Linked DNA regions of Homo sapiens. The protein of the gene in region 3 interacts with the protein of the main gene of each other region in a biochemical or structural test. Each region holds a gene or a part of one and is shown on either strand. Other genes may lie near its edges.

What was found.
Region 1: the proteins of ARL8B (region 3) and PLEKHM1 form a complex in vitro, tested with the Homo sapiens proteins (one study listed by BioGRID and IntAct).
Region 2: the proteins of ARL8B (region 3) and RAB14 form a complex in vitro, tested with the Homo sapiens proteins (one study listed by BioGRID).

Annotation. Positions count from the first base shown.
Region 1 is NC_000017.11:45,472,593-45,482,925, forward strand, and holds part of PLEKHM1 (pleckstrin homology domain-containing family M member 1), read right to left. Parts: intron 9,934-10,333; coding exon of another isoform or gene 9,893-9,933; coding exon 9,845-9,892; intron 6,497-9,844; exon of another isoform or gene 6,450-6,496; intron 5,556-6,449; coding exon 5,308-5,555; intron 5,296-5,307; exon of another isoform or gene 5,046-5,295; intron 3,322-5,045; exon of another isoform or gene 3,296-3,321; intron 3,135-3,295; coding exon 2,508-3,134; intron 1-2,507. UniProt on the Homo sapiens protein: Acts as a multivalent adapter protein that regulates Rab7-dependent and HOPS complex-dependent fusion events in the endolysosomal system and couples autophagic and the endocytic trafficking pathways.
Region 2 is NC_000009.12:121,196,780-121,207,017, reverse strand, and holds the start of RAB14 (ras-related protein Rab-14), read left to right. Parts: upstream 1-5,148; 5' UTR 5,149-5,379; intron 5,380-5,417; exon of another isoform or gene 5,418-5,535; intron 5,536-10,238.
Region 3 is NC_000003.12:5,123,864-5,134,196, reverse strand, and holds part of ARL8B (ADP-ribosylation factor-like protein 8B), read right to left. Parts: intron 5,738-10,333; exon of another isoform or gene 5,382-5,737; intron 1-5,381. UniProt on the Homo sapiens protein: Small GTPase which cycles between active GTP-bound and inactive GDP-bound states.

The DNA.
Region 1 (10,333 bases), on a different chromosome or scaffold from region 3:
GGTCCCAGTGGTCACAGGAGGCAGACACTGTTCCTCCCCAATGTATTCTATCTAAATTCCTCCATTTAACATTTGAAAACTCCACCTAATATGCTCAGAAGCCATTTCTGGGACTACGAGACAATCTCCTATATTGTTTGACTAACAAACAATGTGCCTGACCTTCCTGGGCTTGTAAGTGGTGGAACAGGACTCGAAACTAGGTCGGCTCCAAGCCCAGTCCGTAACACCACCCAACGCTGGTGCTCTTTCCATGGTGGGTGAGAACCCTGGAGGGACCTGAACCAAGGCGAGGGCACAGGGCGAGTGGAAAGAAGGTCCCAAACACGTGGGACCTTCTTTTCCGCTGATGCAGCATGGATCCAGCTGAAGGAGGCTTTTAATAAGAAGTTCCCATTTTCCACCTATCAGATGAGCAAATATCCAAAAGTTCACTAATACCATCAGTTGGCAAGGCTAAGAAACAAGGACATTCCTGGTGGAGTGTAAATGGGCAATAATCTGTGAACATTCCATATTAGTCTATCCTTTTGCTCGGCAATTTTGCTTCTGGGAGTTTATGGAACAGAGATAGCTACGCAGAACTAAAAGACCACATACACAAGGTTATTTATGAAAACACAGGCCCCAGCACCCATTAAATACTGGGCTGATTAAGTAAACTAAGGTACATTCATACACTAGAACAATATGCAATAGAAAAAAAAAGAATGAGGCTGGGCGCAGTGGCTCACGCCTGTAATCCCCAGCAATTTGGGAGCCTGAGGCAGGAAGATCTCTTGAGCCCAGGAGTTCAAGACCAGCCTGGGCAACACAGTGAGACCCCCGTCTCTATAAAAAATAAAAATAAAAGAATGAAGAAGCTCTGAAATGAAAAGATCTTCTCCAAAACAAGATATAGAACAGTGTGTATATACTGCCTTTGTAGGAGAGAAAGTAATAAATAAGGAAGAAATTTTAAAAATCTTTTATTTTTTTTTTTTTGGGACAGAGTCTCACTCTGTCACCCAGGCTGGAGTGCAGTGGCACGATCTCGGCTCACTGCAAGCTCCGCCTCCTGGGTCCACACCATTCTCCTGCCTCAGCCTCCTGAGTAGCTGGGACTTCAGGCGCCCGCCACCACGCCCGGCTAATTTTTTGTATTTTTAGTAGAGATGGGGTTTCACCGTGTTAGCCAGAAAGGTCTCGATCTCTTGCCTTTGTGATCCGCCCGCCTCGGCCTCCCAAAGTGCTGGGATTACAGGCGTGAGCCACTGCGCCCAGCTGAAAATCTTTATACTGGTATTTGTTGTAGATGCATTTAGAAATTTGGAAGAATATACAGGAAATTATTATGGTTTTAGGGGTGGGAGGAAAGAACAGGGTAGAGGGAGAACAGGAATGGGAAAGGCTTTCACTGTATATGTTTTAGATTTTTTTTAACCATAAAAAGATTATCTATGCAAATTTTTTATTTTATTTATTTATTTATTTTTTTTTTTTGAGACAGAGTCTTACTCTGTCACCCAGGCTGGAGTGCAGTGGTGCGGTCTCAGCTCACTGCAAGCTCCACCTCCCGGGTTCATGCCATTCTCCTGCCTCAGCCGCCCATGTAGCTGGGACTACAAGGCGCCCGCCACCATGCCCAGCTAATTTTTTGTATTTTTAGTAGAGACGGGGTTTCACCATGTTAGTCAGGATGGTCTCAATCTCCTGACCTTGTGATCCACCTGCCTTGGCCTCCCAAGGTGCTGGGATTACAGGCGTGAGCCACCGTGCCCAGCTGCAAAAAAATGTTTAAAAGGCTGTGTGAAGAAGGCTCTGCCCAGTTCTCTCTTCAGCCTAGTTCATCTGCCCCACATACTCTTCCACACATCTGTCTGTCCCCACCTGTCCACCACCTCCTGCATGCAGCACTCAGGTCCTGTGTCCCCCAGGAGGTATTCTGTGAAGTCACACTCTTATGCGTTATGTTTCATCTATTTGTTGGACGTTTTAAATGTACTCTGACCTATTAGTTTCCTTCCTTCTAGATGAAGACAACAATATTTTACACTGTGCCTTGTAGAGACTAAGTATCTTGTTTTTTTGTTGTTATTGTTTGTTTTCAGTTTTTGTTTTATTTATTTATTTATTTTTAATTTAGAGGCAGGATCTTGCTACATTGCCCAGGCTGGCCTCGAACTGCTGGGCTCAAGCAATCCTCCTGTATCAGCCTCCCAAGTGCTGGGATTTCAGGCATGAGCCACCGCACCCGGCCAAGTAACTTGCTAAAAGTCACCGGGGCAGAGCTGGAGCCCAAACCAGCTCTAAGCTGTTCTAAGTCCACTTTCTCCACTATGCCTGTATTGCCTGCTACAGTTCCCAGCTACTCCAGTCCCTGGAGAAGTCGATGACTCCCTTGGCTTTCTTTAATTACTAATAGAGTTCAGTAACAGACAATCACATGCTATGGGAAGAAAGGGAGGAGGAGAGGAAAGAAAGGAGGGAAGAGAGAAGATGGGAAGGAGTGGGGGCAGCGTACTCACTCTTGCAGAGACCGGTCTGAGTCCTCAGCATTTGCTGTGCCCAGGTCTGAGTCACAGGACATGGGCTCCTCGCAATGGTCTGGACTCTTGGAGCCATTCTCTTGGAGTAAGCAGCTATCAGAGTTTAGGCTGCAGGACAGCTGGGATGAACTGGCCGTGTCCAGGCTGAGGGAGGAGGCAGTCAGCTTCTGGTTCCTCCGTATCTTATGGCCCGAGTGATGGACTTCGATGTCTTCAGAGCCTGAAGAATGGGAAATGGAATCCAGAGATTCCTTCCGCTGTAGTTCTGCACCAGAGGTAGAGAGAGGGTCCAGCTCAGAAAGCGGGCAAAGCCCAGACAGGGCCAATGGGGTGAGCGTCCACTCATTTAAGATGGCAGACTTGTAGGAGAGTTCGAAGGACAAGGACGTGAGGCCCTGCAGGAAGCTAAGGAGGAACTCGCCCTCCTCAGCATCCCGGAGCAGGGCGGTGGGCTGGTAGTACTCATGCAAGCGGGCCTGCTCCTGCAGCAGCAGCTTCAGGTAGCACTCCATCAGGCCATCGTTCAGGGCCAGCCGCAGCCATGCCCGGCAGCGGCCCACATCCGTGTTGACAAACGTCAGGTGCTCCAACTCTGAGATGATGTGTCTGGGAAGGGAGAACAGACGTGTTTCAAGAAACTACCCCAAATCACAGAGATGTGCTTTTATCCACTGGTTAGCAGGAACCAGGAATAACTACTGCAAATAGATACAGGCATGAAAAAATATTGGGTAATAGTGTTTTAGGCCAGATGTGGTGGCTCACACCTGTAATCCCAGCACTTTGGGAGGCCAAGGCAGGTGGATCACTTGAGCTCAGGAATTCGTGACCAGCCTGGGCAACAGGACGAAACTCTGTCTCTACAACAACAACATAGCCAGATGTGGTGGCTTGCACGTGTAGTCCCAGCTACCCAGCTACTCGGGAGGTTGAGGTGGAAGGATAGCTTGAGCCTGGGAAGCAAAGGTCACAGTGAGCGGAGATTGGACCACTGCACTCCAGCCTAGGCAATATATATATATATATTTATATTTATATATAATAAATATATAAATATAAATTATATATATTTATACATTATATATATATATATATTTTGAGATTGGAATTGTGAAAGATAATTTCCATGTTCATTCCAACTACCACGGGGCCCCTGACACATCTGCTCATCTAAGGCATGCTGTCAGAGCTCCTTAAGTGCAAAGTCCTTGGAGCAATGAAGATGCAGGGTAAAGACATGGTCCCTGCCCTCAGGCACAAGGGACTGATGGAAAAAGGCATAAAGTGTAGGAAATCAACAACCCTGTAAGAGGATTGGGGAGCGCTCCAATTACAGCATGTGGCGGAAAAGTGGGTGGTTTGGTTGCAAGGCCAGGAAAGAGAGGGTCTTAAATATCAAATCAATAAGGCAACACGGGGTAATGGCCCCACACCCAGCTGTGCACCAGAACCCCCTGGGGAACTTGAGCAGGATACAAGTTCTGGGACCCCAACCTAGTGAATCAGTCTCCAGGCTAGCATCTGGGAGCCTGTAGGCTACAGATTTTTGTTTAGAAAAGTGACTTGACCACAGTCATGCAGACTGCAGGGTAGATGTTCTGCATAAGGAGATCAGACCCCAGGTGTACCAAACTCAGTCCCAGAATGCCTCCGTCTGATGTACATGCCCCTCTGAGCTACCACAGTCCCTAGCGCAGGTTTATCTCCTCCATGGGAATGTAGACCGCACTCTACTAGGCTCAGTGAGTAAGCTCCAGGGAGCTTCAGCTCAGTAAATGTTGACCAGATGATGGACTCAAGGAAAGACAGAGTGAGATAAGGGGGACAAATAGAAAGCCAGTGTCACCCAGGAAAGAAGAACGTGAGACAAGGCAGTGGCAATCTGCATGGAAAGGAAGATTAGAGACTGACAAGGCTTCTTTTGGGCTGAAGGTGGCATTTAGTAGTCCTCAGAGGCACAGTGCCAGCTACTTGCTCAAAAGCCCAGACAGTTAGGGGCCAAAGAGATAAGTGTCTCAGGGTGAATATTCATATGCTTTTCCTGATTCCACTCTTTATATAATCCCAGCACTTTGGGAGGCGGAGGTAGGCAGATCACAAGGTCAGGAGTTTGAGAGCAGCCTGACCAACATAGCAAAACCCCTCTCTACTAAAAATACAAAAATTAGCTGGGCGTGATGGTGCGCGCCTGTTGTCCCAGTTACTCAGGAGGCTGAGGCAGGAGAATTGCTTGAACCTGGGAAGCAGAGGTGCCAGTGAACCGAGATCGCGCCATTGCACTCCAGCCTGAGTGACAGAGCGAAACTCCATCCCAAAAAAAAAAAAAAAGATTTACAATTCGGATGTTTGAATAATCTAAGGCAGGGTCAGCAAATCCAAGGCAGGGTCAGCCCTTCTGTAAAGGGCCAGATAGTATATTCTTCAGGCTTTGCAGGCCACACAACCTCTGTTGTAACTATGTAACTCTGCCCCAGTGTGGCAAAAAAGGCTGTTCCTGCTAAAGGTGGCCAGTCTCACCTGCTTTTTGTGACCAGTCTCAAAGCAGCCACAGGCTCTTGCCTGAGTGCTGAGGGTCTCAAGATCTGCTGGCACACTGGCTGGGAAGCTTGGTCTAGAGATAAGCCTTTCTAGAAGACACTTTCAACCCCTACCTCACCCTCTCTCTATGCTAGAACACAGGGCACCTCTGTTGGCTTCCTGAACAGCTGGGGAGGAAAAGCCAAGTGTCCCATAGTCTGCTGCTCCTCCGCAAAGCAAAACCTCTCCAGCTAAATCTCACTTGTGGGTGACAGCTTTCAGGAGGGGCCAGAAGACAGGCTGGGGCAGAGGCTTCTGGTGGGCACTTTTCTTCCTTTTTCCTCCGGCCTCAGCTCGGATGTGCTTGGCGTGCAGGCCATGGATAAATACGGCCTCCAGGGCGCTGCACATGGTGTTGGCATCTCCGTCTTCACTAGTGACCACCGTGTCCAGGGACACGTACTGCTTCTGCAAGGCCTTCACGGATCCCACCAGCTTCTTCTTGATGACCTAGGCAGCACCACACAGAACACAGGCCTTTAGCGGAAAATCCTATGGAGAGTCCCTAGAGTGTAATCCTTTAGCTGGTGCCAAATACGTGTGCAACCACATGCACACACATCTATGTGTGTGTCTGTAGATTCCTTCTGCAAAATTAGCACATTGTTAACTACAGCAAAGAAAGATAAAGCATAGAGAAGAAAAGGAAAATCACACACACTACCCAGAGATAATTACTGTTATTGTTTGTTTCATATGTCCTTTAGTATAGATACTTTTTGTTTTTTAGACCAAACTTAAGTGAACTTAGAGCCATATAATCTTGTGTTTAAATATTGGCCCCATCATAGCTGCAGTGATGGGAGCTTGGGTAAATCCATCTAGGACAAGGGTGGGGCTTCCCACCTTTTTTACATGGACAAGCTTCTGTAGAGAATCAATAAGCCAAGAGGCAAAAACAAACAAACAATAAACACCCACACTGCTTTAGAACAATAAAAACATGAGGAGAACAGGAGCATGGTTTACTTTAAGAAAGATCCTAGGCTGGGCGTGGTGGCTCAAACCTGTAATCCCAGAACTTTGGGAGGTCAGAGGCAGGAGGACTGCTTGAGTCCAGGAGTTCAAGGCTGCAGTGAGCTGTGATCACACCACTGTACTCCAGCCTGGGCAACATAGCAAGACCTTGTCTCAAAAAAAGAAAGATCCTAGGCCTGGAAGCCAGAGGACTAGGCTCAGTCCTAGCTGCCAGTAACCAGATGGGCCTCCTCAGACATTCCACTTAACCGCTTTGAGCCTCAATTTCCTTATCTGTTAAAGTGGAAATAATACTTTCTGATTTATAGTACTATGAGGATTCTCCTGAGGACAGGACTACCTTTTTTTTTCTTTTTTTTTTTGGGAAGTGGTTTCTGGTGAAAACCAGAAAACCTACTAGATAAATTCTAAAAAGAGGCTGGGTGTGGTGGCTCACACCTGTAATCCCAACACTTTGGGAGGCCAAGGCAGGCGGATCACTTGAGGTTAGGAGTTTGAGATCAGCCTGGCAAACATGATGAAACCCTGTCTCTACTAAAAATGCAAAAATTAGCCAGGTGTGGGCCGGGCACGGTGGCTCACGCCTGTAACCCCAGCACTTTGGGAGGCCGAGGTGGGCGGATCACGAGGTCAGAAGATCGAGACCATCCTGGATAACAGGCTGAAACCCCATCTCTACTAAAAATGCAAAAAAATAGCTGGGCGTGGTGGCAGCGCCTGTAGTCCCAGCTACGCGGGAGGCTGAGGCAGGAGAATGGCGTGAACTCAGGAGGCGGAGTTTCCAGTGAGCCAAGATCGCACCACTGCACTCCAGCCTGGGCGACAGAGCGAGACTCCGCCTCAAAAAAAAAAAAAAAAAAAATAGCCAGGTGTGGTGGTGAGTGCCTGTAATCCCAGCTACTTAGGAGGCTGAGGCAGGAGAATCACTTAAACCCAGGAGGCAGAGGTTGTACTGAGCCAAAATCGTGCCACTGCATTCCAGCCTGGGTGGCAGAGTGAGACTCCATCTCAGAAAAACAAAACAAAACAAAACAAAACAAAACAAAAAACATATATATAAAAGAGCTGAGTGTGGCACTAAGACTAGTGTTTTATTCATCCTTGTGTCAACACTTGGCACTGTGCCTGGCACATAGAAATACTCAATAAATGTTTGTTAAATGATACACCACAAAATGTACATAGAGTCTTTTGGAAATATAGAGTAAAAATTGAGCATAATTATAAGCATGTGAAAATCACATAAGTGATTGGAAAAGGACTGGAAGGGATTACAGAAAAACTGGTTTGAATTGTTGGGTGATAGGATTATGGCTACATATTTTAATCTTTTATTTTGATTTCAGCCAAAACACTAAATGTTAACATTCTTTGAAAAGTTAAATTTGAAAAAATATAACGGTTTTAATGAGATATAATTCATATACCATAAAATACACCCATTTAAAGTATACAGTTCAATTGTTTCTAGTATATTCACACAATTGTGCAACCATCACCACTACCTAATTTTAGAAGATTTTCTGGCCGGGCACAGTGGCTCACGCCTATAATCCCAGCACTTCGGGAGGCCAAGACGAGTGGATCACCTGAGGTCAGGAGTTCGAGACCAGCCTGGCCAACATGGTGAAACCCCCATCTCTACCAAAAATACAAAAATTAGCCGGGCATGGTGGTGCACACCCATAATCCCAGCTACTTGGGAGGCAGAGGCATGAGAATCACTTGAACCTGGGAGGTGGAGTTTGTAGTGAGTCAAGATTGTGCCACTGCACTCCAGCCTGGGCAGCAGAGGGAGACTCCGTCTCAAAAAAACAAAAAAACAAAAAAACAAAAAAACAAACAAAAAAAACGATTTTCATCACCCCAAAAAGAAATACTGTATATTAGTGATTGCCAGGGGCTGGGAGAAAGGGGAATACGAAGTGAATGCAGTCACTAATCTATTTTCTGTTTCTGTGGCTTTGCATATTTTGTACATCTCACATGAATAGATATCAATACAGCATATGACCCTTTGAATCTGACTTATTTCACTTAGCATATTTTCCATCATGTTGTAGCATGTATCAGGACTTCATCCCTTTTTATTGCCAGAAAATATTCCGCTGCCTAGATATACCACATTTTATTCATCCATTCATCAGTTAATAGACATTTGGGTTGTTTCTACTCTTTTGCTATTATCAATAATGCTGCTATGAACATCCATGTACAAGTTTTTGAGTGGACTTATATTTCTAGTTCTCTTGGGTATATATCTAGGAGTGGAACTGTACACATAACCCTATGTTTAACTTATCAAGGAACTGCCAAACTGTGTGCCAAAGTGGCTGCACTATTTTACATTCCCACCAGCAATATATGAGTTCCAATCTCTCCACATTTTTGCCAGCACTAGTTATTGCCTTTTTTATTACAGCCATCCTAGGGGGTGTGAAGTAGTATCTCACTGTGGTTTCGATGTGCATTTTCCTGATGTCTAATGATAATGAGCATCTTTATTGGCCATGTGTGTATCTTCTTTGGAGAAGGGTCTATTTAAATCCTTTACCCATTTTATAACTGGATTATTTGTCTTTTTATTGTTGAGTTATAAGTGTTCTTTATACATTCTGGATACTAGACCCTTATCAGATATTTGATTTGCAAATATTTTCTCCCATTCTGTGGGTTGTCTTTTCATTTTCTTGGTAGTATCCTTTGAAGCTCAAAAGTTTTTAATCTTGAAATAGTCTAATTTTAAATGTTCTTTTAAAAGCAAGATGTTATTTGTATATTATATTTAAAAAGTACATACATACTTCGTTCAATTGAGCACCTACTAGGTGTTGGGTTAGGGTATACAGGGAGAAATAAGGCATACCCTCAAGAAAGGCATACCCTCATGGAGTCAGTTTGTGCAGCTGTTGTTAGAAGGCTGGGTTGGCCAGGCTTCTGCCCTAGCTCTGGAGGGTCCTGGGGTGGGATTCGGCAGGCACTGGGGGTGGGAGAGTGGGGGTGCAGAGGGGAGGGAAGAGCCTCTGCATGAAAGCCAGCTGGGAAACAGGTGGAGCTGGACTCTCCTGTGGCCAGGACGGGGAAAGGCACGTCTCTGAGAGCTACAGTTTCTTTCAAGCAGAGTTCTCTGAGCTGGGAAGCAGCAGTGGGGAGGAAAGGAAATCCTGGCTTCTCCCCGAAAGCCATCTCAGGATGCTGCTAAGGGACCAGCCCCAAAGCTACCTGACTTCCTGCCTCTCCAAGAGAACAGAGAGCTCTATCTGGAGTACCCAAGATAGCCCAGGAGGGTGCAAAGGGCTGTCCAAGAAAAGGTCCTAGGGGGCTCCAGTGAACTGCTCACAAATAATTACATTTAGAATATCCTAGAAAATGGTAAGTGTTCAGATACATGTAAGTTACCAATTTACCCCCATTACTGAAACAACAAACCAGTGCCTGGGAATATCTGTTTCCCACCCATTCAGTGCTTTGGCCAGACTGTGACCAAATCATGGCCTAAGGGCAGAGGGCTGAAGGGCTGAATGGAAATCCTTGGTCTTCAGGTTACTGATCTTAAATTCCCACTGCTTTTCATAAATCTCCATCTTATCACCAATAAGGTGATCTAGAAAAGACAGGGTCTCCTCAGAGCCTGCTTGTGCTGTAACTTTTTCTCAACCTGGTCTCTCTTGCAGGACAGTGCCCAAGGAAGTGAGCCAAGCCGATGATACAACTGTCCCCTGCAGCCCTTCCCCGCCCTTGATCCTCCCTCACCCACCTACCGGGATGGCAGCCTGGGGGTCCAGTCCATTCTCCACCACTGAAAGCATCTCCACTCACGCAGCTGCTCCCTCAGAGAATCACATGACACCTGAAGAGACAGATGGCAGCCAGATGAATGGGCAGGGAACTTTCCCCCAGCCAGAGTCCATTCCCAGCAAGCAGCAGGAGGTCAGCCTCTCTTACTCAAACTGCAACCAAAAAGGCCTTTGCAGAACACAAAAGTAAAAACTGATAATAGATTTGAAGGAAAGAAACAAGGAAGGAAAGCCCAGGGGGCTTAGTCGTTGGGAGGCAAGGAGTCCTGGGTGCCAGGGGTGGGTCCACCCCAAGGAGTAGGTGGTAAGGGCGCTTCACATCAAATGCTGCCCAGAAAGCCAAGGCCCTGTAGGATTGAAACCTGTAGGCAGGGAACGACAGGCTGATTCAGATACGGAGCTGCAGGTTCGAGGGGGAGGCTGCAGCTGAAGGTGGCAGGAACCCAATGGGAC
Region 2 (10,238 bases), on a different chromosome or scaffold from region 3:
GTGAGCATGCAATGAAAGAGTTAAATGTTTTCTCAGTAGGTCTCAGTTTCCATGTGGATCTCACGGTGTGGTCATTATGCCCCACTGAGTGTGAATCTAAAGTTGAAAGATGTTTACCAAGCATGGTGGCACATGCCTGTGGTCCCAGGCTGAGGTGGGAGGGTGGCCTGCGCCTGGGAGGTGGAGGTTGCAGTGAGCCAAGATCACTGCACTCCAGCCTGGGTGACAGAGCCAGACTTAGTCTCGAAACAAACAAACAAACAAACAAAGTTCAAAGATGCATTCTTTTTTTTTTTTCATGTAACATGGCCTCTTAAGTCGAAACCACCAACTTCTGGTCGTCAGCCAAAGGAATGCTTCAATGACAATAAATGAGTCTCCGGTAGGGTGCTTTCCTGGGAAAATTTCAAGCTTGCTTTTTACCTCATTAATGTCATGCCCTCATAAGCTGTGACACGAGAGGATATTTTTTGGGAGGGGGTGGTATAAGGTGTATGGGGAGATGAAAGGGCACTATTTCAATGGACACACAATTTCTTTTACAATTGAATACAGAATGTACTTATTGTTACATTTATGCATCACCTTTTTTTAGTGTGATAAGTTGAATCTAATCCTTTTTCATACCCAGAGACGAATGAGTCTCATGCCCTTGATTTTGATTTCTTTGTCAACCTACTAAATTTTGAAGTATATTAATTGCTGTTTCTGTTTTGGTTAATGTCGACAGCCATACCACCATGACCGCACCTGATCTCAACTTTTTTTGGTTAAACTAGCTTTTTTGACCATTTCTTTTTAATTAAATTATGTATCACTGGAAGTTAATCAACTACATTAAAATATATTCGTTTTTTAAATTAGGTAGAACACACATGTGGTAATAAAATTTAGAGTACAAATTGTATTAGTTCTTCTAAATCTTCAATACTGCTTCAGGAATTGGGACACCAGTATTTTAAAGTCTGAGTGTGGCTCGGTGGCAACTCCAAAACCACTAAACAAAAAAGATTCAAGCATAGGGGTAGGGGGGAATCTCCAATTCAAGATAAGCCTATGAACCAAAATTCACAAGCATAAGAGGAAAATGAACAAATAAAATTAAGCCTATAATGAGGAGATGAATTAATTTTGTTTAAATAAACACAACAGAGAGATCTGAAAATGACTTTAATTGTTTAGGCTCTGGGAAGAGATGAAGGATAAAATAACATCTACTTTTTACAAAACAATTTATAAAAATACAAGCAGAAATGAAGCCAGAGCAGGTGACAAACAACCTGCACACCTGGAGGATTCCAGGCATCTTCCCAGGAACAGGTGACCCCTCACACATTTGCTATATCTTCCAGCAGATGGTTAGCTTGTGTCATTATGCCACACTCCTCTCTGATGGACACTTCTTTGCCGTACTCCAATCTGGGACTAGAAAGTCAAGGTGGGAGGAAGGGATAAGGGGAAGCAACTTCAGCCCCTCTTCATCTAAGGTTCTCCCCACACCATCCAAAGCCCCTCCAGTGCTGTCTCTCTCCATCTGTGTTCTCCTTTGTGCAGGAAGCAATAGGGCAGAGCAGATCAGTGCTGCCCAAACAGATAGATATCCAGGGAGTTGTCAGTCCCATCTTCCTGCAGGCACACCCAATCCTCACTGGTGATTCTTTTGGAGCCCCTCTCCTTTGGTTCTAGATGAGGACACAGTCTCCATGAGGGGACAGAAAGAAGGCGTCTCTTTCCATGACATTACAATTTCCCTAAAGGCTGACTTCCCTCCCATGTCTCCAATCTTTCTTTCCACAGATTACTGGTGATGGTGTGTCTGTGGGGATGGGGTTGGAAATGGGGAATAGGTGAGGGAGTAGTGGAGTGGAGGTAGAAGTTGGTCAAGAGCTGACTTCTTCAACAACTGCTCTTCAAATTCCCTGCTAGAAGGTAGCTGGCCCCAGCCACTGGCAGTTTTTTCAGTGTAGAATGTGAGCTCCTTGTGGGCTTTTTATTTTCAAGTTTGGGCTTCAGCAACAGATCCAGGACAATAGGAAGAGATGTATACATGGAATAAACCCCTCTCAATGTCTAGTTACATAAACATACATGTCTTCTTTGCCCTCCTCTTATAGTTTAACAAATGTTGGCATACTATTTAGTTTTCTGCACCTTGCTTTTTTCCCTCCAAGTATTTCCTAGACATTGTTCCATATCAGGACATATACATGGGCCTCATTCTTTTTGATGGCTGCATAGTATTTCACAATATAGATGTACTATAATTTACTATTACAGCTTTCTAGTGATAGACATTTAGTTTGTCTCTAGTTTTTTGTTATTACAAACAGTGCTGCAGTGACTATTCCATGTATACATCTCTTCTTATAGAAACAACTTTTTAAAAAAGTTAAGTAGAAACCCCAATGGATGTTTGGCACCCAATGGACAGTCCCTCTTAATTATGCTGCAACTGGTCACATACACTCTCCTCACTTTGAAAATTCTGGGACTTATTAAAAGAATTGACCATTCCTACTGTTTTTTAATTGCATTCCTTAGCATGTGATAGGCACTCTGCATCCACAAGAGTGTTTCTGTTCAAAGCTGCATCAAAGTGTAATGTCTTTCACATAGGAAAGCAGCAGTTAGGGACCTGCATTTAAGCTGGCTATTGTGAAACAAGAGCAAATAAGGGAGGAAATGGAATAGGGCTTAGTACAGCCCTGAGGTCACATGTTGCCAGATTTAAGTCCCACCCAATTTTCACCTAAACGACTTTAGATCTGTATGACACTCAGTTTTTTCATTCATAAAATGGGGTAAATATAGTACTGACTTCATGCGGATGTGGTAAGGATTAAATGAGAAAATATGCATGATTCTTAGGACAGTTGCTGGTACATAGTAAGTGTTGAATAAACATCAGCTATACATAAAGATCTCCCTTCAGGTGATAATGGCTATAAGGAAACTTACTAGCCAGGTCTAAGTTCATACCTGGGCAATTAATGATCATTGGTTCACAGTTTTCTCCTTTACTTGGCACAGGCAAATTTCTTAGTTTCAAAAATGTTAAAGTGTGACAACAAACTATACTTATTAAAGAATGTGGAAATAGAAGCCTAGACCTCTAGGGTTGCAAAAGGATTTCAATATCACCTTAGATTAGATTATCATGTAATAATCATTTCCATTTCTTATTATATACCAGATATTTTGCATATACTATCCCATTTAATTTTCACAAAGACCTATTTGAGAGAGATATTACTATTTTCATATTGCAGAAAAGACTGACAATCTCAGAAATCAAGTGACATGCACAACTGCATACCATTAGATTATAGAGCAGGAATTCGAACCCAGGTCTCTGAAAATATGAGATGTACAAACTGGCACACACTTTTACAGTGAAATCTCACTTGTTCATGGCAGAACCAGTTCATAAAAGGTCCTGAACGCTAAGAGAAAGATTGATTTAATTTGGGGGTGGGGAACTAAGGCAGGGCCACCTTATCCATTAGGCACAGTACAGTATGCACAGGGCTTAGGGCCTCCAATACTTTTAGGGGCCAACAAAAATGAATATTTATTTATTTTAGAGACAGGGTCTCCCCATGTTGCCCAGGCTGGAGTGCAGTGGCTGTTCACAGGTATGATCCCATTACTGATCAGCACGGGAGTTTTGACCTGCTCCATCTCCGACCTGGGCCGGTTCATCCCTCCTTAGGCAACCTGGGTGGTCCCTCCCTCCTGAACTTAAGTGCAGACACTCTATCTAGTGACACAGTGCACTACAGCCCAGAACTCCTGGGCTCAAGCGATCCTCTCTCCTCAGCCTCCCCAGTAGCTAGGATTACAGGCGCAGACTACCAGCCCTCCTTGCTTACGTTCCTTTTTTTTTTTTTTTTGAGACAGTCTCGCTCTGTTGCCCAGGCTGGAGCGCAGTGGCGCGATCTCGGCTCACTGCAAGCTCCGCCTCCCGGGTTCACGCCGTTCTCTTGCCTCAGCCTCCCGAGTAGCTGGGACTACAGGCGCCCGCCACCACGCCCGGCTAATTTTTTTGTATTTTTAGTAGAGACGGGGTTTCACCGTGTTAGCCAAGATGGTCTCGATCTCCTGACCTCGTGATCCGCCCGTCGTGGCCTCCCAAAGTGCTGGGATTACAGGCGTGAGCCACCGCGCCCGGCCGGCTTACATTCTTTTAAAGTCAGAAGAAAAAAATGAACTTTCAGGTCAGAGAAAATATTTTGTTATATAATATTGATACGTCATGTTTATATCAATGCAGTTGTAAAATATGTTAAATATTTATACATATATTTAACTTACATGTGTGTGAAATATATGTGTGTGTGTAATGTACAAGCCACAAGGCAAAAGTGCTCAGGGTCCAAGAAAGTCAAAACGTGTCCCTGCACCCGAAAAGCACGAAACCTTCTGGGGCAGTGATTATGGCAGAGCAAGTTGGAAGATGGCAGGTGGTAGACAAATTGTGAAAAATATCACATTTCTCTCACCCTGTCAAAGGCAACCCCAAAGTGAAGTCAAAATAGAGATGAAATGCAGGGTCACTTCCTAGCTGCGTGATCTTGGACAAGAGAGTTGACCAACCTGAGCCTCAGTTTCTCCATGGATACAATGGGGATGCGTGCCTCCGACGTTTGTTGGACAGGACCGGTATATACGAAGCATACAGCGGTATATACAGTAAATGCCCCCATAAATACACGTTGAATGAATGCAGTAAATGCATGCTTAGCATGGTGGCCAGTATACGGTAAGCGTCCAATAAGTGGTAAATGTTGGCTTTAAAAATTGTTCAAAAGTCTCCACGAGCGACAACCCTAGTTCTCCAAGACGCAGGCGCACCCCACCAGGTTCCACGCAGACCTGCGCAGTAGCTCCCCCAAGAGGCGAGGACACGCGACTGCGCTTGCGCATACGCGCTTTCCACCTTCCCTCCGGGCGCGAGCGCCCGTGGGGCGGGCCTCAGCGGCGGCGCGACAAGTCCAGAGGTGAGGGCTGAGGAAGGGGCGTGGCTAGCGGGCTGGCCTCAGCCACCCTCTTCCGGGCTCCGCCAGCTGCGCGCGCATCTTCTCCCCCTTCTTTTGTGGTCCGGCCCATTGCGAGGGTGACAGGAAACCCTGTGCAGGGAGCGCCGCCATCTTGGACCAGCCCGAGGAAGATACTGAGGGAGCACAGGAGCAGTCACCGCTGCCACTGCTACTGCCGCTACTGCTGCCGGCGCGTCTGCACCTCTCGGCCTGCCAGTGTACCTGCCGGCGCCTCGGTCGACCGCCCCCGCCCCCTCTCCCGCTGCGTCCGCACTCCTGTTCCTGGTCCTGACGCCCCCCTCCCGCCCGGAAAGCTGCCCAGCCACCAGCAACCCCCCAGGTAACCCGGGCCTTCCGTAGTGTCCGGCCGGCTGATACCTCCTCGCGCCGGGTTCTTCAGAGGGGCGTGTGTGGGGACGGTGGAGACTGGGCCGCAGGCGGGCGGCGCCCCGGGGCCAGGCCCCGTCAGGCCGTGGCTAGCCCGTGGGTCGGCGGTGAGCGCCGCGGCGCCGGCCTGACAGGACTCCTGGGCGGGGGCGGAGGTGTCCCCTGCGCGGCTCCGGCCTGAGCCTCCTGCCCTCCCCAACCGGCGGGGCGCTCCGAGGCGTGCAGGGAAGGGTGTGTTCCGGCCTCGCCTTCCCCGCCTTCTCGGCGCGGCTGGGCAGGACCGCATCTCCCGCGGGCCCCCCTCTCGCCGCTGTTCCCCGCGGCCGCAGCCCGCCCCCGCAGGGTGTACCCACGCGTGCCGCGCCGCCCTGCAGCCCGCAAGCCCCAGACGTGGCGGTCCCGTCCCGTAGGCCGCGTCTGGCTCTGAGTACAAAGGCAGCTCTTCGCAGCCCTCTTGGCGTCTCGGGGCAGCTCCGGTGTCCTTGTCGATGTGGGGAGCCCGGCCCTGCAGCCGGGCCGGGCCGGGGCCGGGGTCTGGGTCTGTGCGCCTGTGCTTGCGATGTCCTGGTTTTGGTGCGTTCCTGTGAGGCCCGTGGACAGCCTCTACGGCCCTGAACCTACAGAGCATCTAGAAATAAGAGAAAGTTGTGGCATTTCTAGAATCTAAGAGAAGACGACAGAGCTGGAGTGTTTTAAGCGTTTTAACTGTGGGCCAGGTACATATTTATGTATTTTTGTACCTATTTATCTTGCCCCGCGTAGCCCTCGGAGATAAGTTGTCTCCACTTCATAAGTGAGGAAACTGAGGCCTAAAGTTGTGATGTGTGTCTGGCTGTTGATGGTACATTACAAACTGGCTTCGGCTCACACTGTGGCTGGTGGTTTCTGTACTACATTCAAAAATTAGGCTAGGGTTACAGACATGACCATTTATAATGTAGTTACAACTTTATTCCTTTTTTACTGTGTTCGCATTGGATGACAGCTGATTACCCTTTTATGACCTAAAGTCCATAAAGTCAACCACTACACTGGCAAATCCTCATGCTTACAAACCCCAAAGGAGAGATGCCAGGATTTCAGTTTCATATATGAAGAAGAAACGGGTTCCAAGAGGACAGGTGCCTTCCTGGTGACCCCACAGCAAGTGTCAGAGCCCAGATTTGAACTCTTGCAAAGTTTACTGCTCATTTCGTTACTATCCCAACTGCCTTTAAAAAATTCTTTTATTTTTCTAAGGTAAATATTGTAGAGGAACAACTGCCTTTTATTTAGATTTGATTGTTGAAGACAAACTTGACCTTGCAGTAATCCAGCTCCTACCCCTTTATTCCCCCAAGCCTTTCCAAATTTTTTCTTCCAAGTTCTGTTTAGGCAGTTTTATTTGATCATGCCTAGAGGTATGTCGTGGTTAAGAGTTTTGGAGTCATACTGTCAAGGGTTCTCCCTCCAGTACTGCCACTTCCTAGTTAAGTGATCTTAAGCAAGTTACTTAACCTTTCGGACTCAGTGTCCTTATCTATAAAGGGGATAATTGGACCTGCATCTTAGAGTTGTTGCTAGGATTAAATGGGGTTTAAAGAAAGCCCTTAGCACATTGCTTGGCATATAGTAAATCAGTGCCTGTAACAGTGCCAGGCACATAGTGGGTGTTTAATATCTTTTGAATGAATGAGAGAGGAGTATAGCTTTGGAGAGCTACATGTAGAGTTAAACCTGGGCCTTAATTCTAGCTCTCCATTTAGTAGTAGTATGACCACGGGTAGATCACTTCGGTTTCCTTATCTGAAAAATGAGTTTTTAGGATTAGAGACTGTTTATAAAGTAGCTGGCATGTGTTAGGCCCTCAATAAATGGCAGTTATTGTAAAGACGTAAAACCTTAGATTATAATAGCTATTAAAAAATCCCTTGAAATTAAAGCTACATCTTAAAAAGTTGTTGCTTTTTTTGTATTACAGTTAAACTTTATCATTGTTGCATACTTCAACTTTGCAACAGAATTTGGAGTGTTCATTTTTATCAATATCAAATATCTTTGCATAGTCACAGTAAGATATTGTGCTAGTGGAGGAAACTTGATTAAGGTAAATAAAATGTGAAAACTTGGGCTATTGAGAGATGTTTCATGTTTTTTAAAAGAGGCTTGAAACATTTTTATGTGGTAAAAAATGCCAGGCATGGCTAAAGACAACAGTTTGACAAATAGAAGTATTAGAGGTACTGTACTTGACTTTTAAAAAGCTTCTTATTCTAGACAATTTTAAATATATACAAAATCAGGTAGCATACTGAGCATTCATATACCTATCAGCCAGTGTCAACAGTGATCAGTCTTGCTTCATCAATATACACTTGCCTCCTCCTTGCCAAATTATTTTGAAGCAAATCTCAGACACAATATCGGTAGTAAAATTTTCACTATTAATCCTTTTAACTTGAGCAGTAAGTGCAGGGGTTTTTTTTGGCTTTTTGGTTGTTAAGTGCTTTCTTTCTGTAAACAGAGGTCCAGTATTAGAATACTTTATTTCCTGTATATAGAAGACCATCAAAGTTACTTTTGCCACATTAAGCAATCCAGCTTTTAAAAATGATTCACATTATTTATATAAAAGTGACATTAAGTATATTGTCAAAAGTAAGGTTTTTTTTTTAAGTGGGTGGGCTACTTGTACTACTGTTGAGGAAATTGACCACTCATTTTTATTAGATTAGATTATTAGATTAACTACAGAAGTTTTATCCGCCTGACTGACAAATCAGGTAGTAGTGGTCCATTTTAGTGGGCCTCTAAAGCAAGTCAGCATGCTTCTGTTGTTGAGTTCCACGAAGGCAGAGACAGTGTTGTCTTTTTTGATCATTGCTGTCTTGCTAAAGCCTGGCACAATGCTTTGTGCTTAGTAGATACTTAACAGATATGTTTATGTTGGAACTACAGAAGCAGTCCATCTCAGCTCTGGTATTTTTAACAAAACGTCGTGCATGTTAAAAAACAAACAAAAAACTTATCAGTGGAAATAACAAGGATAAGAATTAAATTACCTGGAATATTTAATGGGTTGCTTTTCCCTTGTTATGTCTTGGATCAGCTATGTAAAAATTATACAGTAACATCATAGGTTCTAAGGAGTAGAATAGCTGTATAACAGTTTTTAAAATCAGAGCAAACAGTAAGTAGTTAAGCTATTAAAAAACTCCCAAAAATATGCCCTCTACTATTGAGTGTTGGTTTTTCTATTTTGAACCCAATCGTATTATTGGCTTCATAAGATATTCCTCTTATTATCAGTAAATGCGGAAATAATGTTGGGAATATTATGAGTGGGAGATTTGTTTGTTTTTGTTTGGGTATTCTTTAACCTGTATTAAAATAGAAAAGGGCTTTTGAAATATTTATCGGTAGAGAAAATTTTATTTTTAATTCATTATAGTAAGTCAGTGCAGGGATATATAAAGAAAAGTTAATAATTTCTCTATTCCCTGTTTCTCCTGTCCATGTATTTTTCACAATTTGGTGTGTATTCCATATTATATGAATATAGGGTTGAGTGTGTGTGTGTGTGTGTGTGTGTTTGAAAGTGGGGTATGCTGTTGCATAAAACTCTGCAACATGTGTTTTTTCACTTAACAAAATCATGGATGTATTTCCAGGTTAATGCATATCAATCAAAATGGTTTCTAAACTACATGGATATTATTTTGTATTATAGATGTACTTTATTCAGTCATTTCTTTGCTGATTATTTCCAGTTTTTTGCTGTAAAAATGGTGCATTAAATGCACTAATACCTGTAGCCTTATGGGCTGAAGCTTTTGTATATGTAGGATACTTTCTGGGCCAAAGGATGATTTGGATTATTGTTAAGATTTTTAAACATACTGATTACTTTCCAAAATGTTGGCACATTTCCACAAGCAGTATGTATGAAAGTGTATACCTTCACATCTGTACCTACATGTTTCAAAACTAGTCGTTTATATGTCTGTGTAATCTTAGAAAGGTGTCTGATTCAGTAAATAGAAACCATGCATTCTATTTTTGTCACAACAATAATTAGTGTTTAATATTTGTTCAGTAACCACTTAGATCTAAATGTACTGACATGAAAATGTGTCTATCATTTTGTTGAGTAAAAGAAATATGCAGAATTTTACAAGATGGCGTACCCCATTTTAAAATACATTTTTCACCTTAACAGTGGTGAAAATGGTGGTGAAAAATGGTATATTTTCACAGTGGTGAAATGGTATGTTTCCCCAGTGGTGAAAACTGGTATGTTTCATGTTCAGGAGATGAGGTTGAGAAATCCTTTATTAAAGCAATATTAAGCATATTAATATTTTTAAGGAGTCAGTTGAATACATGGCACAGTTGTTAGTGTTTACTATGCATTTAGTAAATATTTCTCTTGGCAGCAAGGGTAGTTTATAGCTAAATTTTACATGCACTAATATCCTTCCTCTTTCTCTGATTTTTATTTTATCAGTCTACCTGTACATACCTGAAATAAGCTAATAATACCTTAGAGAAAATCATGGTCTTTGGAATCAGGCCTGGGTTCAAGTTCTAGGTCTACCATTTACAAACTTTATAACATTGGCCAAATGAGTGAATTTCTCCAAACCTCAGTTTCTTTAATTTTTTGCATGGACATAATGATAATGACTCTGCAGAGTTGTGAGAATTAAGTAAGAATTATAAAAAGTAGTATAGATCATTACATGGTTTACTCTCAAGTGTTCTCAAGAAACTTTTTCTAAGTAAATGAATTATAGTATTATAAGTTAGTATTACTAGTATTACCAGTCATTT
Region 3 (10,333 bases):
GACAGCAATCAGTAGAAATAAAAGATCCTACAACCCACTCTTTTGAAGAGAAACTAGGAATGGATCTCAACTACTTCCTGTATCTCTTATACTCCTGAAGACAAAATTAGGAATTGGATGAAATGTTAATTCTCAGTTTTTGTGCCACTGAACTTAAATATAGCATTCATAGCCTGTCATTTCCAACCAGCCATCCCTTTATATCATTAATTATGTAACACTTTTTTTTCCAGGGGTGTGGGGTGTGCTGTGCAGTGCAGGGGAGACCTGGTCTCACTCTGTCGCCCAGGCTGGAATGCAGTGGCACCATCATGGCTCACTGCAGCCTCCTGGACTCAAGCCATCCCCTTACCACCTATGCCTCCCCGGCAGCTAGGACCACAGACACGCAGCAGCACATCCAGCTAATTTTTTTTATTTTTTTATTTTTTGTAGAGACCAGAGTTTCACTATGTTGCCTAAGCTGGCCTTGAACTCCTGAGCTCAAAGGATCCACACCCTTCTCAGCCTCCCAAAGTGCTGGGGTTACTGGCATGAGCCACCACGCCCCAGCCTGTAATACAATTTATACTCAAATCATCCCTTTTTCTTCTAAACCCATTCTTTCTTCCCCACCCTGTAACTGCTGTTTGCTGATGGTACAACCATATTCCCCACCATTCAATCAAATCTTTAAAAGGGTCTTTGCAAATTCCCCTTTGTCCTGTACCTCTGACTTAATTGCTAAATTGTACTCATCCTATTTCCATAATAATGCGTACCTTTCCCCTCCTCCCCAACTGTCTCCCTCAATGTCTCTCAACCAGACCTCTGTAATAACCTTGTAACCAATTTCCTTGCGGATGGTCTCTATATTGCTGCTAAATTAATCCTTCGGAAACACAGGTCTTATCTTATTCCTCTGAATTAAAACCTTCAGTGGCCCTCCATGCCTAATGTCACACTCAGTCAAGGCCCTGTGGGAGCTGACTGATCTACTTTTCCAGCCTTTGTTTCTTTTTCCTTCACTAAGGTTATGCCTAAACCAACAAAAAAATTTCTTTCCCTCAGCTGTGCCTTTGCTTTTCCCACTGTTCCTGCTTGAATATCTTTTTTCCCCACATGATATCGGCAGTTCCACAAGGGCAAGAACATTGTCTGCTTTGCTCCCCATTATATTTATGCTGCCCAAAACACTGCTTGACATATTTGTTGAATAAATGAAATTCCTCTACTCTTATAACCCAGCTCAAAAGCCATTCCTGCCACTGTCCAACCAAAACTCAGCAAACAGCCTTACTAAATAAAACTCCTCCAATGTCTTAATGGGGTGGGTCAGGGGAGAATTCCAATAGCATTTTGTATCTTAAGGCACTTAATATTCCTCTCCTATACATGGCACATACCCGACCATAAATGACCTTGTCTGGTACATTTATAAGTTATCTATCACAATGCCTTGCACCTAGTTTAAACATGCATGGAGTAGGTATACTTTGCTGTTATTATTCATTCATTCATTCATTCAGTATTTAAAGAGCTTGTCATGTGGCAGGGACTGTTCTTAGCAATGGGGTACAGCATTGTAAAATATGATAAAGTCTTGGCTCTGTGAAAAGGGACAGACTATTAGAAACAAGAGAACAAGATAATTTCTGATGGTTAAAAATAATGAGAGGAGCCGGGCGCAGTGGCTCACGCCTGTAATCCCAGCACTTTGGGAGGCCGAAGCAGGTGGATCACCTAAGGTGAGGAGTTCAAGGCCAGCCTGGCCAACATAGTGAAACCCTATCTCTACTAAAAATACAAAAAAATTAGCAGGGCATGGTGGGGAGAGCCTGAGGCTGAGGCAGGAGAATCACTTGAACCAGGGAGGCGGAGGTTGTAGTGAGCCGAGATCGCGCCACTGCACTCCAGCCTGGGAGACAGAGTGAGACTCTGCCTCAAAAAAAAAAATAATAATGATGATCATAGGGAATATGATCAATCCTAACTTAGGGCAATACCTACTACAGAAAGGATGGGAGGACTTAGGCACAGTACAGGCTCATGCCTGTACTCCCAACACTGGGAGGCCAAGGAAGGAGGACAGCTTGAGCCCAGTAGTTCAAGATCAGCCTGAGCAATACAGCAAGATTCCACCTCTACAAAAAAACAAATTTTTTTAATTAGCTGGGCATGACGGCACATGCCTGTAGCCCCAGCTACTCAGGAAGCTGAGGCAGAGGACTGCTTGAACCCAAGAGGTTGAGGCAGCAGTGAGCCATGATTATGCCACTTTACTCCAGTTTGGGTGACAGGGTGAGACCCTGTCTCAAAAAAAGGAAAGAATGACAGAAAAATTCAAAGGATAAAACTAGTCAAATCATTTCATTTCTGAAATTACCGGAACTCTGAAAAAAAGACAAAAACCAAAGTTAAACATTTCAGTCACTTAAGAGTAGAAAATAATGGCAGTAACCAAAATATTCATATAAGGGTTAATGAAAACCTGTAACGTCAATTTAATATTTTTAAGAAACGGGTAGGCTGGGTGCAGTGGCTCACACCTGTAATCCCAGCACTTTGGGAGGCCGAGGTGGGTGGATCACTTGAGGTCAGGAGTTCAAGACCAGTGTGGCCAACATCGTGAAACCCTGTCTCTACTAAAAATACAAAAATTATCTGGCCATGGTGGCGTGCGCCTGTAACCCTAGCTACTCAGGAGGCTGAGGCAGGAGAATCGCTTGAACTCGGGAGGCGGAGGTTGCAGTGAGCCGAGATCGCGCCACTGCACTCCAGCCTGGGTGACAGAGTGAGACTCTGTCTCAAAAAAAAAAAAAATTTTTTAATTTTTTTATTGAAATAAGATTGCCAAAAGCTAGAAACGAAATAGCTAAATTATGAAGGAGAGAAATGTAGGTTTCCTTTCTTTTCCTAGATTTTCCTCTGATAAGAACTATTTACAAATGATGAAGTCCATGTATTGGCATTAAAACATTCTCCGGACAAAATGAGCTTTCAAGAAAATGGTGGCCGGGCACGGTGGCTCACACCTGTAATCCCAGTACTTTGGGAGGCTAAGGCGGACAGATCACAGGAGTTTGACACCAGCCTGGCCCACATGGTGAAACCTCGTCTCTACTAAAAATACAAAAATTAGCTGGGCGTGGTGGCGGGTGCCTGTAGTCCTAGCTATTCGGGAGGCTGAGGCAGGAGAATCACTTGAATCCCCGTGCCACTGCACTCCCAGCATGGATGACAGAGTGAGACTCCATCTCAAAAACAAAAAAAGAAAAAGAAAAAAAAGAAAAGAGCGAAGAAAAGGCAGGCCTAACTATGTGTGTAGCCTAGATTTTAAGCAACCTCATTCTTAACATTATGCTACATTTTGCATACTGAAGTAAGAATATAGGTTCATAGGCTGGGCGTGGTGGCTCATGCCTGGGCCGAGGCGGGCGGATCACTTGACGTCAGAAGTTCAAGACTCGCCTGGCCAACGTAGCGAAACCCCATCTCTACTAAAAATACAAAAAATAGCCAGGCGTAGTGGCGCAAGCCTGTAATCCCAGCTACTGGGGAGAGGCTGAGGCAGGAGAATCATCTGAACCCAGGAGGCAGAGGTTACAGTCAACCGAGATCATGCCACTGCCCTTCAGCCTGGACAACAAAGCAAGATTCCATCCCCCCGCCAAAAAAAAAAACACACACACACACAAGCAAGCAAGCAGCATCCCACTATAATAGGTCCAAGATTAGGTAAGGATTATACTGAAATATATCAGGGTTATGGAATATGCAATCTACCAATACTTCTAAAACAAAATAGCAGCATGATAAGTAAAGGGGATGAGCTGTATTTATATTTACATGGCTTGCCTGGGAAGCTCAACAAAAAAGAACTATGTTCTCAGGGGCAGGCGTGGTGGCTCCTGCCTGTAATCTCAGCACTTTGGGAGGCTGAGGCAGGAGAATCTCTTGAGCCCAGGAGTTCCGGGACCAGGCTGAGCAACACAGTGAGATGAAGTCTCTACAAAAAAAAAATATATATTTTTTTTTAAGAGAATATGACCTTGGTCAGGTGCAGTGGCTCACGCCTGTAATCCCAGTACTTTGGGAGGCCAAGGCAGGCAGATCACCTGAGGTCAGGAGTTCGAGGTCAGCCTTGCCAACATGGTGAAACCCTGTCTCTACTAAAAATACAAAAACTAGCTGTGTGTGGTGGCACGTGCCTGTAGTCCCACCTACTTGGGAGGCTGAGGCAGGAGAATCACTTGAACCCAGGAGGCAGAGGTTGCAGTGAGCCAAGATCATGCCACTATACTACAGCCTGGGTGATAGAGCAAGACTCTGTCTGAAAAACAAAAAAGAGAGAGAGAGAATGTGGAGAATGTGGCCTCACTATGTTGCCCAGGCTGGTCTTCAACTCCTGGCTTCAAGTAATCCTCCTGTCTCTGCCTCCCTAAATGCTGAGATTACAAGCGTGAGCCACCACACCCAGCAGCAAAAATCTTGTTTAAAAAAATTAGCCAGGCGTAGTGACATACGCCTGTGGTCCCTACTACTTGGGAGGCTATGGTGGGGGGATCTCTTGAGCCAGGGCCCAGGAGGTGGAGGCTGCAATAAGCCATGATCATGCCACTACACTCCAGCATGGGCAACAGAGCAAGAACTTGTCTCAGAAAGAATTATGTTCTCTATAGTTATCAGTCTTGGCAGTTGCTGAAATATAAAAAGGAACTTCTTAAAATATATTAAACACAAACAGAGCAGTATCTAATAGGATAATTTTAAAATACCGTTCTACTTCATCAACAAAACTATGTTTGTCCTAAAAAATACCAGAGGACAAAGTGCTTAACCAAAGTCCAACTTTATATATGAAATCTGCTCAGTATTAGCTGGGCGAGGTGGCAAACACCTGTAATCCCAGCTACTTGGGAAGCTGAGGCAGGAGAATTGCTTGAACCCGAGAGGTGGAGGTTGCAGTGTGCCAAGATCACACCACTGCACTCCAGCCTGGGCAACAAGAGCGAGACTCTATCTGGAAAAACAAAAAACAAAAAACAAAAACTGTTCAGACCTTCTCAGTGGGAGTGTACACTTTCTGGAAAGCAATTTGGCCATATGACATAAAATGCGTTTTTGACCCAGAAATACCAACTCTGGAACACATCCTCAGGAAGTGCAGATCAAATTGAGTACAATAGGAAAACATAGGAAAAATCCCTCAAATGTCCAATAAGGGAATTACCAAATATGTTATGGCATATCCACAAGACATACCACAATGGAATAAACTATGAAGACATGAAAAATGTTTTAGATAGAAAAATGCATACACTGTAACAATTAAACCAGAATATAAAGCATTATAAGTAATATTATCTCAGAACTTTTTAAAAGACATCTGGATATACACATTAAGAAGACAAAAACGAAATGCTTTTAATGTTGACAGTAGTTAATCTTGGATGGTAGAAATAAGTGGCTTCTTCTACCTTATACTATTCTTTTCACATCTCCGCTAATGAGCCTGTATTGTTTTGATAACACAAAAAAAATTTCAGAAAAAAAATTTTTTAATAATATTTGAGTAACTTTTTTATAGGTTCAATGTATTTTGTATCCATGTTCAGTAACCATCCACTTACTATATCTTTGAAAAACTTAAAAAATCCATTAACTTGTGAAATATCTTCTAAGACAGGCATTTAGAATGCATTATTGCACTCTAACAGCTTCTTAATGAGAACATTTGGCTTTCAAGATTCTTGGTCTGCAAGGAAAAACAAATAATTGGAGCGGGGATGAAGGGTAGAAAACTTTATGGAAGGTAGAGATGTTCCTTTGTAAGATGCCTCATTTTCCACAACTCAGAATCTATACTTGAAGACCACCTTATTGGAAGACTAGCTTCTCCAGTCAAGTTTCAGATGTGTAAAACATCTAGACTTGAACCACAGCCCATTTTCTTTAAAAATGGTTTTTGCCATTCTTACCTCCAAAGAAATTAAATAATAAGCAATACAATCAAATACAAAATTATTTCTGCTTTTTTTTTTTTTTTTTTTTTGAGACGGATTTTCACTCTGTTGCCCAGGCTGGAGTGCAGTCGCTCAATTTCGGCTCAACGCAACCTCCGCCTCCCAGGTTCAAGCAATTCTCCTGCCTCAGCCTCCTGAGTAACGCCAGGCTAATTTTTGTATTTTTAGTACAGATGGGGTTTCATCATGTTGGTCAGGCTGGTCTCAAACTCCTGACCTCATGATCCGGCCGCCTTGGCCTCCCAAAGTGCTGGGATTACAGGCGTAAGCCATTGCGCCTGGCCCTCCGCTTTTTTTTTTTTTTTTTTTTTTTTTTTTTGAGACGGAGTCTCGCTCTGTTGCCCAGGCTGGAGTGCAGTGGCGCAATCTTGGCTCACTGCAAGCTCTGCCTCCAAGGTTCACGCCATTCTCCTACCTCAGCCTCCCGAGTAGCTGGGACTACAGGTGCCCACCACCACACCCAGCTAATTATTTGTATTTTTAGTAGAGACGGGGTTTCACCGCATTAGCCAGGATGGTCTTGATCTCCCTCTGCTTTTTAAAGATACTAAAAGTAGTTCAACAACTCAGTAATGCCTGTTAGCCAGTTATTTAAATATCCAAACATAATATTCCACTCTTACTTTCCACAGATTATCATTCCTTCTCCTAATTCATGTTCATAGATAAATATATAGTCCTCAAATGTTAGTCAGTATGCTTAAGATGCCTGGATTTAAAATGCTCTCTCTAGAGAGACACACAGTACTCATTACGTCTGTATTTCTTATTCTATAAAGCAAACATTTCATATACGATACAAAAACTGCAGCTGATTTTTTAAATTAAATTAAATACAAAAAAGATGTTTAATGGATTAAGATCTCCCAATCCACAGTTCTATGGTTCTAACCTCAGCTGGATCTAAAGAGGTGGGAAAAGTAGAAAGTACACTGGCCCCAGATTCTAATTCTATCTCTGCTACGAATTAGCTTTGTTGCCTTGGAATTCCACTTAACCTCACTGGATCTGCTAGCCACATCTAAAAAATGAGGGGAAAATTAGACTACTTAATCAAGGTTTCTACAAACTCTTTAAAAAATGATTCTAGGTTCATATTTCTACAGTCTTCCCAAATATCTTCTTTTCCTAATTCTCAGCAGTAATAAACTTTCCCTTGGATTAACCTTTCAGGTATCAACAATGTGCAAAAGTGTAGACAAATTTTTATACTTCCATTTAAAAAATACATAATGTCCATAAGATTTATCCTATATTATTTTGGCAAATCCTATTAGATATTTTTTAATAACTATAACATATCTAAAAGCCCCAGTTAAAAATAAAGATTACTCAATATACATTACACATATAGGCACATGACTTATTGTGCAATAACTGCCAGAACAGTTAGCAATGGAAAAAATACTTCATTCCTTGACACTAATCAGAAAAGACAAGACTAGGGTGTTTCTTTTTTATAATGTTCAAAACAAAAGAGAACACTACATATATCAAGTGTCTCTACATAAAACTGGATTAAATTAGGTATCATTTCAGTTTTAAAATCCTAAGGAAAGGCATTCTAAGTCTGAGCATTCTGTAACTAAGCTGCATTATCTTTTAGACTCAAACCAAACCCTACATATAATAGTAATTCAGTCTCATGAACCTTTTGAGTAAGTTAAATGACATCTATTAAATCTTCCTTAATGTTTAAGGCACATGTAGTGACATTTTAATGTTTACAAAATGTTGATTTTTACAAAAAGAAAATTGGCTTCAGCTGAAGCTTTTCATACCTGAGAAGTCGCTTCTTAAATGTGAATAAGTAAATGGTCACCTTTCTAGAGTGACACATAGTACTCAATACATCTGTATTTCTGATTCTATAAAGCAACTATTTTATATACAATACAAAAAGTGCAGCTGATTTTTTAAAAGGCTAAACTTACTATTTTGGACACATTGTTTCTACCTAAAAATCTCTAAAATCATCTTTAATCACTAACTTGGATTTTAATCACTACATCCTCAACATATTCTATAAGAATCAGGGGTTAGGTTAGAGCCTTGAGGTTAAAAAAAAAAAAAAGTATGAAATTCACTGAGGGGGTCCCTTTCAGCATCTTAAAAGCCACAGCCAATTACAGCCCAGATGTCTTTTTTCTTTTTTAAATTAATATTACTTTTAATTGACAAATCATAATTGTATACATTTATGGAGTACAATGAGATGTTCTGATACATGTTTACAGTGTGGAATGACTAATTCAAGCCAATTACACATCCATCACCTTATCTTTGTGACTTTTTTTTTCTTAACTGAAGCTACCCACACCATTACAATTTTAAAAAGAATAGTCTAATGATAACAGTGGGCTGGGCACAGTGGCTCACGCCTGTAATCCCAGCATTTTGGGAGACCAAGGCAGGCATATTACTTGAGACCAGGAGTTCGAGAACAGCCTGCCCAACATGGTGAAACCCCGTCTCTACTAAAAATACAAAAATTAGCTGGGCATGGTGGCAGTCGCCTGTAGTCCCAGCTACTCGGGAGGCTGAGGCACGAGAATAGCTTGAACCCAGGAGGCAGAGGTTGCAGTGAGCCAAGATCATGCCACTGCACTCCAGCCTGGGCAACACAGCGGGACTCCGTCTCAAAAAAAAAAAAAAGATAATGGTGGAGCCACTGGTTCACTTTGACTTCAACAGCTTTGCAGAAGTTTTGTTGTTGTTAAATATAATAATCTAATGGTGGGGGCGGGGCAGGGGGGAACACATGATGCGATTACTTTCCCCAATCCATAAATCCACTACTGCAGCCCACATCTGGATAGATACAGTGATTCAAAGTAGAAAATGATACCAGTTGAGTCCCTTCTCAGTATTTTTCAAGCCATCGTTCCTGCATTAAACAGGTACGCCCAATTACAAATAACAACAGTTACCATCTACCTATCCCCTTCTGTGGGCCAGTATGAGTGCTAGCCACTTAACATCTTTCATGTCATTTAATCCCTAGAGCAACTCTGTAAGAAACATATCATTACCTCCATTTAATAGATGGGAAAGTAAGGACTCAAAGAGGATGTAAGGCTGCTAAGCGGCAGAGCCAGATTTCAAATCCAGGGCTGTCTGACTTCAAAGGTCATGCTCATTAAGCTACACTGTCTACTGAAAACAGAAGCATAAAAATCACCAAGAAGTTTCTCAAAGATTTGCTCAACTTTTTAGAGTTCCCAAGCATAACAACTCAACTGCAACAAATACAACTGGCTGTATTAATACACCTATCCACATGAAACATTAATTCCATGTTGTCAAAGAGCAAGTTTTACAAGATGACTCCAATTCTCATCTCAAGGGGATATGAGAAAATTTACAGTTAACTGAGCTCAACTTCACTCAAGCTTATGCCTCATCTTTTCCATATTATATAAAAGCTCTAGCAGGCTTATAATCCCAGTATGCTGGGAGGCCAAGGCAGGAAGACTGCTTGAGGCCAGGAGCTCAAGACCAGCCCTGGCAACATAGCAAGAGCCCGTCTTTATAAAAAATAAAAATTAAAAATAAATAGCGAGCCATGGTGGTAGCACATGCCTGTAGTCCCAGCTACTTGGGAGGCTGAGACAGGGAAGATCACATAAGCCCAGGAGTTGGAGGCTGCAGTGAGCTACGACTGCACCACTGCACTCCAGTCTGGGTGAAAGCTCAAGACCCTGTCTCCAAAAAAGAAAAGAAAAAAATTCTAATATAAATATGTAACCCGAAGTTCATGTTTCCTCATTAATTTTAGTGGTATTAGGCCAGGAACGGTGGCTCATGCCTGTAATGCCAGCACTTTGGGAGGCCGAGGCAGGAGGCTCGCTTGAGCCCAGGAGTTCAAGGCTGGCCTGGCAACATAGGAAGATCTTGTCTCTACCAGAAAAAAAAAAAAAAAAAAAAAAAAAAAATTAGTGGTATTAGATACACATTCCACTCTTCTATTCCTGCGGAAAGATAGTCATTCCAAGCGCAAAAAATCATAATATTACAATAGGAGGCCAGGCGCGGTGGCTCACACCTGCAATCCCAGCATTTTAAGAGGCCGAGTCGGGCGGATCACATGAGGTCAGGAGTTTTGAGACTAGCCTGAGCAACAAAGCAAAACCCATCTCTACTAAAAGTAATTAGCCGGGCGTGGTGGAGGACGTCTGTAATCCCAGCTACGCAGGAGGTGGAGGCAGGAAAATCGCTTGAACCTGGGAGGTGGAGGTTGCAGTGAGCTGAGATCTCGCCACTGCACTCCAGCCTGGGGGACAAAGCGAGACTCCGTCTCAAGAAAAAAAATTAATAATAATACTACT